Homo sapiens: one gene and its partner. The protein of the gene in region 1 purifies or fractionates together with the protein of each later gene. This does not show direct contact. Each region holds a gene or a part of one and is shown in the gene's direction. Other genes may lie near its edges. The genes, in order: SEC24C and SEC16A.

What was found.
Region 2: the proteins of SEC24C (region 1) and SEC16A purify together in Homo sapiens (affinity purification with western blotting; 2 studies listed by BioGRID and IntAct, with this or other methods). This does not show direct contact.

The regions. Positions count from the first base shown.
Region 1 is NC_000010.11:73,754,210-73,761,478, forward strand, and holds part of SEC24C (protein transport protein Sec24C), read left to right. Parts: intron 1-5,412; coding exon 5,413-5,585; intron 5,586-5,808; coding exon 5,809-6,177; intron 6,178-6,503; coding exon 6,504-6,640; intron 6,641-7,269. UniProt on the Homo sapiens protein: Component of the coat protein complex II (COPII) which promotes the formation of transport vesicles from the endoplasmic reticulum (ER).
Region 2 is NC_000009.12:136,444,897-136,452,165, reverse strand, and holds part of SEC16A (protein transport protein Sec16A), read left to right. Parts: intron 1-757; coding exon 758-910; intron 911-4,004; coding exon 4,005-4,082; intron 4,083-4,256; coding exon 4,257-4,313; intron 4,314-4,485; coding exon 4,486-4,597; intron 4,598-4,801; coding exon 4,802-4,939; intron 4,940-5,150; coding exon of another isoform or gene 5,151-5,216; coding exon 5,217-5,311; intron 5,312-6,446; coding exon 6,447-6,521; intron 6,522-7,054; coding exon 7,055-7,114; intron 7,115-7,269. UniProt on the Homo sapiens protein: Acts as a molecular scaffold that plays a key role in the organization of the endoplasmic reticulum exit sites (ERES), also known as transitional endoplasmic reticulum (tER).

The DNA.
Region 1 (7,269 bases):
TTTGAGACCAGCCTGGCTAACATGGTGAAACCCCATCTCTACTAAAAATACAAAAATTAGCTGGGTGTGGTGGCGGGCACCTATAATCTCAGCTACTTGGGAGGCTGAGGCAGGAGAATCGCTTGAACCCAGGAGGCAGAGGTTGCAGTGAGCCAAGATTGTGCCACTGCACTCCATCCTGGGCGACAGAGTGAGACTTCGTCTCAGGAAAAAAAAAGTATATGGGAGGTTATATGCAAATATGATGCCGTATAACCCACATCCAATTCTATTGATTCCACCTTCAAGATGTATCCCAAATCTCACTACAGTCATTCCTCAGTATCCATGGGGGAATGGTTCCAGGACCTCCCCTGACCAACAGATACCAAAATCCACAAAGGCTCAAGTCCCTCATATAAACTCTATTCAAGTAGAGATGTTAGGTAGGCAGGTGCATATACAAATCTGCAGCTCAAGACTGATGCTAGGACTGGAGATAAAAATTTGGGAGTCCTCAGTCTATAGATATTTAAAGCCGTGGGACTAGATGAAATCATTTAAAAAGTGAGTATTGAGATTAAAGAATGGAATTGAGGACTGAGACTTGGAGCTTAGCAACATTTAAAAGTAAAGAGGAGCCGCCATTAAAAGACAATGAGGGGCCAGGTGCAGTGCCTCACTCCTGTAATCCCAGCACTTTGGGAGGCTGAGGCAGGCAGATTGCTTGAGCTCAGGAGTTCGAGACAAGCCTGGGCAACATGGTGAAACCCTGTCTCTACCAAAATACTAAAATTAGCCGGGTGTGGTGGCACATGCCTGTGGTCCCAGCTTCTTGGGAGGCTGAGGTGGGAGGATGGCTTGAAACCAAGAGGCGGAGGTTGCAGTGAGCCGAAATCGCACCGCTGCACTCCAACCTGAATGACAGAGTAAGACCCCATCTCAAACAAACAAAAAAAAAACAAAAGACAATGAGAAAGAGCAGTAGTGAGGTGGGAGATAAGCCGGGAGAGTGTGGTGTCCTGAAGTCAGGTGAAGAGAGTATTTCAAGAAGGTGAGAGAGTAATCAGTTGTGTCAGATGCTGCCAAATTGTAAGATGAAGATGGAGAATTGACCATTGAATTTGGCAAGGTTGGCGTCATTGGTAAAGGCAGTTTCAGTGTAGAGATAAAGAAAACTACCCAGTTGGAGTGAGTCAGAGTTTCAGGCCAGGCGCGGTGGCTCATGCCTGTAATTCCAGCACTTTGGGAGGCCGAGGCGGGTGGATTACAAGGTCAGGAGATCGAGACCATCCTGGCTAACACGGTGAAACCCCGTCTCTACTAAAAATACAAAAAATTAGCTGGGCGCGGTGGCAGGCTCCTATAGTCACAGCTACTTGGGGGGCTGAGGCAGGAGAATGGCGTGAACCCAGGAGGCAGAGCTTGCAGTGAGCCGAGATCTTGCCACTGCACTCCAGCCTGGGCGACAGACAGCGAGACTCCGTCTCAGGAAAAAAAAAAAGTTTCAACCGGGTGGTAGATTGACATAATCTGAAAACCCTCTGCTACCAAAGTCTAGAAAGGAGAGAGAAAATAGAAACAAAAAAAATTTTTAAGTGCAAAGTTAAGCTTGAAAGAAAATGTGAAATTCTTAAGTTTTAGAGACCAAGTGAGGACTGAAAATCTTTTTTTTTTTTTAAATACAGAGTCTTGCTCTGTCGCCCAGGCTGGAGTGCAGTGGCACGATCTCTGCTCACTGCAACCTCTACCTCCCAGGTTCAAGCGATTCCCCTGCCTCAGCCTCCCAAGTAGCTGGGACTACAGATGTGGGCCACCATGCCCGGCTAATTTTTGTATTTTTAGTAGAGATGAGGTTTCACCGTGTTGGCCAGGCTGGTCTCAAACTCCTCGCCTCAGGTGAACCGCCCACCTTGGCCTCCCAAAGTGGTGGGATTACAGGCATGGGCCACTGTGCCTGGCCATCAAGTGAGGACTGAAAATCAGAGTGGTAAATTGACTCTGGAGCTGCCTGTAGATTGGGTGGATTCATCATCTTGAGAAGCCAGGGCCTTAAATTTAAGCAGGTACTGGGGAAGGCAGATGAGTCCTTGGGCTTTCCTGAGAGTAGTTTTGGAACTGAGACATTGTTTATAAAGTCTGGACCTGGGCTGCACCTTCATTGAACAAGCTGACTAGGGGAAAAAAGTCTGCACGCTGGAAAGGGGAGATAAGGAGTGCTGTTTCTCTCAGGCTGGCTGTGGATGGGTGAAAAAAAAAGTTCTTGGGACTGCAAATGGACATGACATCTTTTTGGAATGATGAAAATGTTTTAAAATTTGATTCTGGTGATGGTTGCATAACTAAATTTACTAAAAATCATTGAATTGTTCACTTGAAGTGAATTTAATGGTATGGAAATTACATCTCAGTAATATTTTTTTTTTTTTGAGACAGAGTTTTGGTCTTATTGCCCAGGTTGGAGTGCAATAGCACGATCTCAGCTCACTGCAGCCTCTGCCTCCTGGGTTCAAGTGATTCTCCTGCCTCAGCCTCCCAAGTAGCTGGGATTCCAGGCATGACCACCATGCCAGGCTAATTTTTTGTATTTTTAGTAGAGACAGGGTTTCACCATGTTGGCCAGGCTGGTCTTGAACTGACCTCAAGTGATTCACCTGTGTTGGCCTCCCAAAGTTCTGGGATTACAGGTGTGAGTCACTGTTCCTGGCCAATTTTTTTTTTTTTTTTTTTTTTTTTTTTTGAGATGAAGTCTCGCTCTGTCACCCAGGCTGGAGTGAAGTGGTGTGACCTTGGCTCACTGCAACCTCCACCTCCCAGGTTCAAGTGAATCTCCTGTCTGAACCTCTTGAGTAGCTGGGATTACAGGTGTGCACTACCACGCCTGGGCTAATTTTTGTATTTTTTTAGTAGAGATGGAGTTTCACCATGTTGGTCAGGCTGGTCTTGAACTCCTGACCTCAAATGATCCATCTGTCTCGGCCTCCCAAAGTACTGGGATTACAGGCATGAGCCACTGCACCTGGCCTAATTTTTTTTTTTTTTAAATTAGAGGCCAGGTGCAGTGGCTCATGCCTGTAGTAATCTCAACACCTTGGGAGGCTGAGACAGGAGGATCACTTGAGGCCAGAAGTTTTAGACCAGCCTGGGCAACATAGGGAGATCCTGTCGCTATAAAAAAAAAAAAATAGCTGAGCATTGTTGGTGTGCCTGGGAAGCAGAGGTGGAGGCAGGAGGATTGCTAGAGCCCTGGAGGTTGAGGCTACAGTGAGCCATGATGGCTTCGCTGCACTGTGGCCTGGGTGCCAGAGTGAGACCCTGTCTCAAAAACTAAAAAAAAAAAAAAATCAATCTAGGGTGACACTGTCATTATTGGAGTACCTTCTGGAAACAAATGTAGAACAACCACACCTCAGTCCGGGCTGGAAGGGATTATCGGAGAAAGGCACTTTGATTAGAGTTGGGCCAGGCACAGTGCTCATGTTTGTAATCCCAGCACTTTGTGAAGCCGGGGTAGGAGTTCAAGACTATCCTGGGCAGCATAGCAAGACCCTGTCTCTACAAAAAATAAAAAAAATTAGCTAGGTGTGGTGGTGTGTGCCTGTGGTCTCAGATACTTGGGAGGGGAGGCTTAGGGGGAGGATTGCTTGAGCCCAGGAGGTCAAGGCTGCAGTGAGCCACAGATAGTGAGTGCCATTGTACTCCAGCCTGGGTGACAGAGCGAGACCCTGTCTCAAAAAAAAAAAAAAAAAAAAAAAAAAAACGTAAGGCTGGGCACGGTGGCTCACGCCTGTAATCCCAGCACTTTGGGAGGTTGAGGCGGGCGAATCACGAGGTCAGGAGTTCCGAGACCAGCCCGGCCAACATAGTGAAACCCCGTCTCTACTAAAAATACAAAAATTAGCCAGGCATGATGGTGGGCACCTGTAGTCCCAGCTACTCGGGAGGCTAAGGCAGGAGAATTGCTTGAACCCAGGAGGTGGAGGTTGTGATGGGCCAAGATCGCACCACTGCACTCCAGCCTGGGCGACAGAGTGAGACTCTGTCTCAAAAGAAAAGAAAAGAAAAAAAAAAGTAGAGACAGAGTATAGACCTATTCTTTTGTAATGTTTAGCTAAAAGGGGAGCAAAAGTTTGAGGGGGCTGTGAGGTAATTTGGTTGGATTTTTAAAAAGTTTTTTGAGATATAATTCATATACTGTGCAATTCGTCTGTTTAAAGTGTTTTTGTATATTTAGTGGTTTTTAATATATTGACAGATATGTGCTGTCACAATTTAGTATATTGACAGATATCACTACAGTCAGTTTTAGAACATTTTCATCATCTGAAGAAGAAATACTGCATTCTTTAACTACCCCTGTTTAGCTATTCCCCCATTCCCCTATTCTTCCAACCTTAAGCAACTCCTGATCTACTTTCTGTCTCTAAAGATTTCCCTATTCTGGACTTTTCATTAGAATAGAATCATATACTATGTGATATTTTATAACTGACTTCTTTAATTTAGCATAATATTTTCAAAGTTCAACTATGTTGTAGTGTATATTAGTACTCCATTCCTTTTTGTGGTTAAGTGGTTTTTCATTGTGTAGCTACATGCCACATTTTGTTTATCCATTCTTCTGCTGATAGACATTTGGGATGTTTCCACTATAGTTGGTTTTTGTGTGTGTGTGTGTGTGTGTGAGATGTTTGTATGTTTTTGTGCTGATGGGAATAATCAGAGAGGGAGACACTGAATGGAAAGTATATTGGAAAGACACTGTGGTAGACTGAGGCGGGCAGATTCGTTGAGCTCAGGAGTTTGAGACCAGCCTAGGCAACATGGCGAGACTCCGTATCTATAAAAAATGCGAAAACTAGCCACGCATGGTGGCGTGTGACTTTCGTTTCAGCTACTTGAGAGGCTGAGGTGGGAAGATCAGCTGAGCCTGGAAAGTTGAGGCTGCAATGAGCTGTGATCACACCACTGCACTTCAGCCTGGGTGGCAGAGTGAGACCCTGTCTCAAAAAAAAAAAAAAGCTGGACAATCAATCTGCATTTGTTTGATTTCATATTTATTAAGGTTCATGCATGCTTATGCGTGCCTTCCCTTTCAGTGCTTTCAGGGCTTCAGATTACAAAACTGAAGAGGTTTGTCAAAGAATTGAAGCAGAGGAAGCAGTAATTTAGTTAGCAGAGTAAATAGTACTTGACCTGAAGGTGCTTGGTTTATGTTTGTGGAGTGAGCTTAATGGAAAACAAGATTTGCCATGAATAATCAGGAATATAATTTACCCACAAATATACAAAAGTATGAAGCCATAAAAGAACTCAGGGTGTGAGAGTAAGATGTCACAAAACAATGTAGCTTCCTGTATGATGTGACACTTCTGTAGACTTCAAAGGGTGTCCTGGCCCCACTAGTCACCTCTGCTTGCTTTCTTTTCACAGGCTGCCTGGGTCTCAGCCATTTGGGTCCCCATTGGCCCCTGTGGGCAACCAGCCACCTGTGCTTCAGCCCTATGGCCCTCCCCCGACAAGTGCACAGGTGGCTACGCAGCTGTCTGGAATGCAGATCAGCGGTGCTGTGGCCCCAGCCCCTCCTTCTTCAGGGCTGGGCTTTGGTGAGTGGCTGTGAACACAGGAATGTTACTGTCCCCTGTTCAGAGGCATCAGACTCTGGGGTTATACCTGAATCTCTTTTATTTCCCTTGTATTTCCTGTGCCTCTGAGCCTCAGAAGATGGGACAGTCATATTTGCCCCTCTTGTGTGGAAAGGGAAGTGATATACCGAACAAGGAGGCAGAATGACTGGGCTTTTGACTCTACCTTTATTCTACTTCTCAGGCCCACCAACATCGCTGGCTTCAGCCTCAGGAAGTTTCCCTAACTCTGGTCTGTATGGCTCCTATCCTCAGGGCCAGGCTCCTCCCCTTAGCCAGGCCCAAGGTCATCCTGGGATCCAGACTCCCCAGCGATCTGCCCCATCACAGGCCTCCAGCTTCACACCCCCAGCTTCAGGGGGTCCTCGGCTGCCTTCGATGACTGGTCCACTCCTGCCTGGACAGAGTTTTGGAGGGCCCTCAGTGAGCCAGCCCAACCATGTGTCTTCACCTCCTCAAGCTCTGCCCCCTGGCACCCAGATGACTGGGCCCCTGGGACCACTGCCACCTATGCACTCCCCGCAGCAGCCAGGCTATCAGCCCCAACAAAATGGTGAGTCTTTCCCAAGGTCTGTCTTAGAAGCTAGAGGCTTCAGCTACTCAGGTGGTTTTTGATGTTTTTTATTTGTTTGTTTTTAGTATTACTTGCTAAGTGGTGAATTAGATGGGTAGCTTCAGGGTATTATTCCTAGGATATGGGGTTTGTAAGACATTATTTTTTCTTGTCGTTCTGATAACATGGTATTTTTCTGAATGTCTTTGCCAGGCATTAGTGTGCCTCATAATTCTATGTTTTTAGGAGTCTAGTCATTTTCCTGAGGCCTTAAGAAGAGATAGGGATGGGATTTTGAGTTCATCAACCTTGTGTCCTTGTCTCAGGTTCCTTCGGACCAGCCCGGGGCCCTCAGTCTAATTATGGAGGCCCCTACCCAGCAGCACCCACCTTTGGCAGTCAGCCTGGGCCTCCTCAGCCACTGCCTCCTAAGCGCCTGGACCCTGATGCCATCCCAAGCCCTGTAAGTAGAAACTTTCATGGTCCTGAGGAAGGGTTTGTGTCTGCCAGATAGGCAGGTCAATCTAGATGAAATGTTTGCCTAGCATTTTCTGATAATTTTCCCTTTTTGTTCATCTTCTTGGAGAACTTACATATAATTTGATTCTGAACTGGAACTTGAGGTTCTAGGAGTCTTTTGGGGGGCTGTTTTACTCTATAGCTGGGCAGAGAAGGAAGGGAAACCAAGAGTGAGCAGCAGCACCAGTAGATGTCTGAGGGCTGCACTCTGTCACTACTGTACATACATAGTATAGTAGCCTTTGTCCTTCTGTGGAGCAGTGACTGGGTCTTGTCCCCTTAGATCTAGAAGGATGGCATTCTTCCTAATGGGTAGAGCAGGTGGGAATTCTCTGATGTTAGATGTTAAGAGAAGGAAAGCCTCACTGGTTTCTCTGCTCTTACTTGGACAGTTTTAGGAGGAAGTCCCCAGTACTTTTGTTTGGTAGGCTTCTGCTGTGTGGATGGGGAAGAGTGAACGACAGTTTATGAGGGCAGTGTGTATGTAAAGTCCCACTGGAGAGCTGCTTTTTTCAGGAAGAGGGTGAATTGCACCCTTGGAGCCATCAGAATCCTCAGGCCCTCCTTATCAGA
Region 2 (7,269 bases), on another chromosome or scaffold:
GGCCGTCTCTTTTTCTACAGTAGAATTTCTTTTCTAATTTTTTGATCTCACAAGAGGATGTCCTGGAATTCAGTAGAATTTCTAACATTGTCACTGGTTTTCCTGAAAGTGAGATTTATCTCATTAGACATGTTTGGTATAAATACCTCCTCTGTTTGCTCTACTCCTAACCAGGAGGGATGGTTGCTTTTATACAGACCGCATTCTGGAACCTTCTTTACAGATACCCAGCCCTTCACGGGCATCCCATCAGTAGGCGATTGCTATAGTTTGAACTTGCATTAGGTGTTTTACCCTTTAAAATACTGTGTCCCTGGAAAAGTAAAAATGAGGGTTGAGCTATTAAAAATTGGGACTTGACCCAGGAATAAATATTTTTAAAAATCATTGTATCTTTGAGAACACCCATCGCCCCCCTCTGGCCAGTCTTCCCTCAGTGCATGCTCACACTCCGTTTCTTCCAGCCCGGAATCTCCATCGAACGCCCTCATTTGCATTCTGAGTGCTGAGTGCTCCCAGACGGAGCTGCTTATTAAGTGCGGCTGGCTCTTCTCTAGTCAGGCCAGGTAGAGGCTCTGGGAGGCCCAGTCAGGGGGCTGCTCTCCCCAGCCCCCTTCCTGCCTCCCTCTGGTCACCAGAGTCATCCGGCCTCTCAGTGATGTATTTAGGAAACACGCCTGGGGAATTGCATCCCCCTCTCTCTTTCGGTTCCTGTGAGGAGCCCCAGGAGAGCCTGTTCTGCATTTCCTTGCGACAGACCCCCTCGAGGACGGTGCCAGACTCGGAGGCCCCCCCAGGGTGGGATCGTGCCGACTCGGGTCCCACGCAGCCACCTCTGTCTCTCTCACCCGCTCCCGAAACAAAGAGACCCGGACAGGCAGCCAAGAAAGAAACGAAGGAACCTAAGAAGGTAGTACAGCCTGCCCACGGTGCGCCTGGCGGCCGGGAGGGTTTGGGCAGGAGGCACGCTTCCCAGAGCGCCATCCTCTTAATTCACCACACATGCAAATAGCCTCCTGATACAAACAGCCGAGTGTCTACAGTGCACACGGCATGATGGGTGTCTGTGTATTTGTGCCTTCAGATAATAGGATAATAGCCCACCCAGGTCAGCATGGGGACACAGCCCGGCCCCCAGAGGTCGCCTCTGGCCACTACCTGTCAGACCCACCCGCAAGGGACCAGACGGCAGCCGCTGCTTTGTCACTGTGGTGTGTGCCTGCTGCCGGCTCACAGATCCTTTCTCCCAGCCGTGGACTTTGGGACTGCTTTCAGTGTGGGGCTGGGATCCGTCAGGCCCCAGGAGCCTCCTTGCCTATCTATTGGCGAATGCGCTTGTTTTTCTTAGGTGCGTGCCAAGGAGCTGAGGGTTTAGCTCGCAGGATGAGCGTGTGTTCAGCTTTAGGAGACACTGCTGAGCAGTTGTCCTAAATGGTTGGTTGCCCCAAGTCACACATCCTGCAGCAGAGGACAAGGGCCCTGGATATCCCTCATCTTCACCAATACTGGGCAGTGCCGGTTCTTTAACTTAGCCATTGTGCTGGGGCTGATGACATCTCATTGTGTCTTCCTCTGCATCTCCACAGCGAGGTGTGACGCTGGGCACCTTCTCGTGTCCCTGTTACCATCTCACCACTCTTTTGGGGCAGTGCTTGTTCAAGTCTCTATCCGTTGTTTTTTTTTTCCCCCATAAAGATGGGGTCTCACTATTGCCCAGGCTGGTCTCAAACTCCTGGGCCCAAGTGATCCTCCTGCCTCGTAGCTGGGACTGCAGGTGTAGCCACCACACCTGGCTTTCCTTTCCATTTTTAATGGTGTTCTCTTCAGGACTTGCAGGAGTCCTTTCTGTATTATGGATATAAGTCCTCTGTTAGGTGTATTTATTGTGATATCTTCTCCCAATCTGTAGATTGCCTTTTTACTTGTAATGGTTTTTTGTTTGTTTGTTTGTTTGTTTGTTTTGAGACAGGGTCTCACTCTGTCAGCCAGGCTGGAGTGCATTGGCATGATCTTGGCTCACTGCAACCTCCGCCTCCCAGGTTCAAGCAATTCTCCTGCCTCAGCCTCTCCAGTAGCTGGGATTACAGGTGCCCACCCCACTCCCAGCTAATTTTTTGTATTTTTAGTAGAGATGGGGTTTCACCATGTTGGCCAGGCTGGTCTCAAACTCCTGACCTCAAGTGATCTGCCTGCCTTGGCCTCCCAAAGTACTGGGATTACAGGTGTGAGCCACCATGCCCGGCCTAGTAATGGTATTTTATGAAAAATATCATTCTTCATTTTAATAAAGTTCAGTGATCAGATTTTTCTTTTATGGCTGCTGTCTTGAAAATAAACACACATTTAATTCCAAATTTGTGTGAGCTCTGAGATAAAACATGATACTTGAGCAGGTTTCCAGTGCATAGGCTATCACAGGCCTCCCCGGGACAGCTTGTCTGGCCAGTAGAACTCACAGAGAAACAGAATTGAGGGTGTGTAGTAGCTGCTGAGGCTTCTCCTCTTTCTTCAGTAGAAGTGAAGTGCATCAGGCCGGGCATGGCGGCTCACACCTGTCACCCCAGCACTCTGGGAGGCCGGGCGCAGCAGCTCCTGCCTGTCACCCCAGCATTCTGGGAGTCAGGGTGCGGCGGCTCACGCCTGTCACCCCAGCACTCTGGGATGCTGAGGCGAGCAGATCATGAGGTCAGGAGTTCACGATCAGCGTGGCCAAGATGGTGAAACCCCATCTCTACTAAAAATACAAAAATTAGCCATGCATGGTGGTGGGTGCCTGTAATCCCAGCTACTCAGGAGGTTGAGGCATAGAACTACTTGAACCCGGGAGGCAGAGGTTGCAGTGCGCCGAGATCGCGCCATTGCACTCCAGCCTGGGGGACAGAGCGAGACTCTGTCTCAGAAAACTAACAAACCAAAATGAAGTGCATCATGTGAAGAATAAAGTAAAGTTTCCTAATAACCGAATTCTCCACACATGGGAAACACAGAGGGCTGTATCTGCCTCCGACACACACTGACTTGGACAGCCCGCCTTCCACTTCTCAAAGGGGAGGACGTCGGAAGCTTTGTCAGTGTTTAGACGTAAAAAGTTCCTGAAGGCACGTTACTGTTCTGACCTATTTAAATGACAGTAAAATACACAGAACAAAATGCACATTTTTACCATTTTCTGAGTGCACAGTTCTGTGGCACCAAGTACATTCACACTGTTGTGTTGCCATCACCACCATCCATCTCCAGAACTGTCTCACCTTCCCAAACAGAAACTCTGTCTCCTTGAAACGAAACAACTCCCGGTTCCCTCCCACCTCCATCCTCCTGGTGTCTCTGGATCTGCTTCCCACCTCCATCCTCCTGGTGTCTCTGTGGATCTGCTCCCCACCTCCATCCTCCTGGTGTCTCTGTGGATCTGCCCCCCACCTCCATCCTCCTGGTGTCTCTGTGGATCTGCCCCCGACCTCCATTCTCCTGGTGTCTCTGGATCTGCTCCCCACCTCCATCCTCCTGGTGTCTCTGTGGATCTGCTCCCCACCTCCATCCTCCTGGTGTGTCTGGATCTGCTCCCCACCTCCATCCTGGTGTCTCTATGGATCTGCTCCCCACCTCCATCCTCCTGGCGTCTCTGTGGATCTGCTCCCACCTCCATCCTCCTGGTGTCTCTGTGGATCTGCCCCCCACCTCCATCCTCCTGGTGTCTCTGTGGATCTGCTCCCACCTCCATCCTCCTGGTGTCTCTGTGGATCGCCCCCCACCTCCATCCTCCTGGTGTCTCTGTGGATCGCCCCCCACCTCCATCCTCCTGGTGTCTCTGTGGATCTGCTCCCCACCTCCATCCTCCTGGTGTCTCTGTGGATCTGCTCCCACCTCCATTCTCCTGGTGTCTCTGTGGATCTGGCGACTCTGGGGCCTCACAGAAGTGGGTCATGTAGAATTTGTCTTTTTGCCCTGGCTTATTTCATGGAACATAATGTTTTCAAAGTTGTTCTCGTGTTTTTTATATTTAGGGTGAATCCTGGTTCTTTCGTTGGCTACCTGGAAAGAAAAAGACAGAAGCTTATTTGCCAGATGACAAGAACAAATCGGTGAGTGCTGTCAAATACGCACGGGACGTCCGAAGAATTGTAATGATTTTTCTGTCACTTTCAGAGCAGACCTGAGTAGGTGTTTCCTGAAGTTTTGAAGTGTCATCATTAATCAGATGCTAATTCTGTTTAGGTTCAGTCTGCTGACCTTTTTTCTTTTTAAAATCTTGGCAGATTGTTTGGGATGAAAAGAAAAACCAGTGGGTGAATTTAAATGAGCCAGAAGAGGAGGTAAATTGTCATTCTAGTTCCTGTTGGGTGTGAGGTGTGAGTGGAGGGAACAGCCTCATGTGGCCCTGTGATATTTGGGTGGCTGTTGCCCCTTTTGGAGCCTCCTGACTGTGCCATCCCAGTGGGTTTCTGTGCACACAGTGGGTGTCTGAAGCTGTGTTTCCCTCTGCAGAAGAAAGCCCCGCCCCCACCTCCAACCTCGATGCCCAAGACTGTGCAAGCTGCCCCGCCTGCCCTCCCAGGGCCTCCTGGAGCCCCCGTGAACATGTACTCTAGAAGAGCAGGTAAGGGTGGCCTTGGAGTGGGAGCTTGCTTGAACGATTAACTGTCCCAGAGAGAGAGGCCAATGTGTAGCTGTTGTGCGTGGGGAGGAGGTGGCTTCCCGCACGTCCCTGCGTGCTTTTCCTCTGACGCAGTGAGCGCAGAGCATTTGGAAGCTGGAGGCCACCTGGCGCGTTCACCTCAATTTGCTTCCCTCCCCTTTGCAGCAGGAACCAGAGCTCGCTACGTTGACGTCCTGAACCCAAGCGGGACCCAGCGGAGCGAGCCGGCTCTCGCTCCTGCGGACTTTGTCGCTCCACTCGCGCCACTCCCAATTCCTTCTAACTTGTTCGTGCCAACCCCAGGTAGGTAGCACGAGCACCAGCCCCTCCAGGTCAGCCCCCAGTCTCCTGACCTTTGATCCTCTTTCTATGAGTCTCTCCTAAATCTCCCGTTAAAAGAATGACCTGGCCAGCATGCAGAGAGCCTGGGGTTGGTTTGTGGTTTTTTTTTTGATTTGCCTGTTTCTGCATGAGTGTGCCGCGTGTGCAGTGTGAAACTCTCTTCCTCTCGGAGTGTCTTCAGTGAGACCCCAGGGACGTTCGGGACGGAATGATGGCCTCCTCGCTCTCTCATCCCCAGATGCAGAAGAACCACAGCTTCCAGACGGGACTGGCAGGGAAGGGCCTGCAGCAGCTAGGGGCCTGGCCAATCCAGAGCCTGCCCCAGAGCCCAAGGTGAGCGGGTACGGTGGGAAAGGGGAAAGGTACCCAGTGAGGAGGCACCTCCCCATCCTGCCAGACAGGGCCTTGCCTTCTGCAAGTCAGTATCCAATGTGTACGTAGAGTGTTCCGCCTTAAACGCCTCACACTTATGTATGGTAGAGACGGAAGGTAGAATGCAGGGTGCCGGGCGGGACAGAGCTGTTTGGGAAGACGGAGATCTGGGGATAGTGGCGGTGATGGTTGCTCAGCACGGTGAATGTGCTTAAAACTTAAAAATGATTAAAGTGGCAAATTTTACAGTATGTATATTTTACAATTTTTAAAATTGGAAAAAGTAAAATTAATTACTCTAAGTTACAGAGAAATTACCTACCGATAATAAAAGTTAAGTATATTTTCATCCAAAAAAAAAAAACAAAAAACAAATGACTCCCATGTGAAGTAGAACAGCTCAGACCAGTCGGGAGTGGTGGATGATGCCTGTAATCCCAGCTCTTTGGGAGGCTGAGCTGGGCGGGTCACCTGAGGTCAGGAGTTCGAGACCAGCCTGGCCAACATGGTGAAACCCCATCTCTACTAAAAAAAAAACAAAATTTACCTGGGTGTGGTGGCGGGTGCCTGTAATCCCAGCTACTCAGAAGGCTGAGGCAGAAGAATCGCTTGGACCCAGGAGGCAGAGGTTGCAGTGAGCTGAGATTGCGCCATTGCACTCCATCCCGGGCAACAGAGCCAGACTCCATCTCAAAAAAAAAAAAAAAAAAACCAGCTCAGACTGCACTCTGTACGGTGGGACAGGCCTGGGCCTAATCCTGTTCTCCATTCATCAGCTGTGTAAAGCATGGGGCAGTCACTCACCTGTCTAAGCCTCAGTTTTCCCCTCTGTAAAATGGGAATAACAGTAGCCCCAGATTGCAAGCCTGTCATGGGCACACACAGGCACCTGGTAGAGAGCTGCAGGGGTCTAGAGTCAACAGGGTTGTGCGGCTGGACCCACGTGTGAGGCACTTTTCACTTCTCTCTGAGGAGCACTTTACGTGGAAGAGGGCGTTTGTAACCCAGGCCAGAACAGTTTCATATTTTTTGGCCTGGTGTGAGAGACTTAAATTCCCTGGGATTTGGTTGCTGCAATTCTTCTTTTCCTCGGCAGGTTTTAAGCTCTGCAGCGTCACTCCCTGGCTCTGAACTCCCCTCCTCCAGGCCTGAGGGTTCCCAGGGAGGAGAGGTAAGGAGTGCCGACGCCAGGGCCCCCCGCAGCCCAGGCCTCCCCAGCAGCTCACTGTCCAGGCGCCTCTTCCTTTATGGAGGGGCGGTACTGGGTAGGAAGAGGCAGTTTAGAAACAAGAGCACCTCGAAGGTGGTGTTCCTGGGGGAAAAAAAATTGCACTTGTTTTAACAAAACTGTTTGGGAGCTCCAGGAGGGGTGCAGGGGGTTTGAGTTGTCGCCTCAGTCCCGGTCCTCTCCCTTCAACAGCACGGGAATTGTCTTGAATTGTGAGGTGTCAGGAGGTGAAGCTGGCTTAGGCCGAGGCTGGACTTTTCCTCCCAGCCCTCCCCTAAGCTAATGGTTGTTTCGGGATAACAGCTTTACATTAAGACAGGAATCTTAAGCTAACACTGGCTTTTTTTTCCCTTTTGAGTTATGTTGATTCTAATGGCATCACAAAGCTTTTGAAATGGAACTGACAGCTTGGATTGGACAGTGACGTGCATGTTGACTTTCGTCCGTGTTTTATGTGTGTTCTTGCTGTTTTGTAGCTTTCGCGCTGTAGTTCAATGAGTTCATTATCACGTGAAGTGAGCCAGCATTTTAATCAGGTACCTGCGGCTGGTGGTCCTCACTAACATGAGAGCTGGCGTGTGCCGCCTGTGTTCCTGAGCACGCGGTGCCGGTTCGCCACGTGCGCTTTGCCACTAACCTCGCCCGTTGTCTCCCTCAGCGTCACGTGACCAAGGGTACAGGGTTCCTTTTT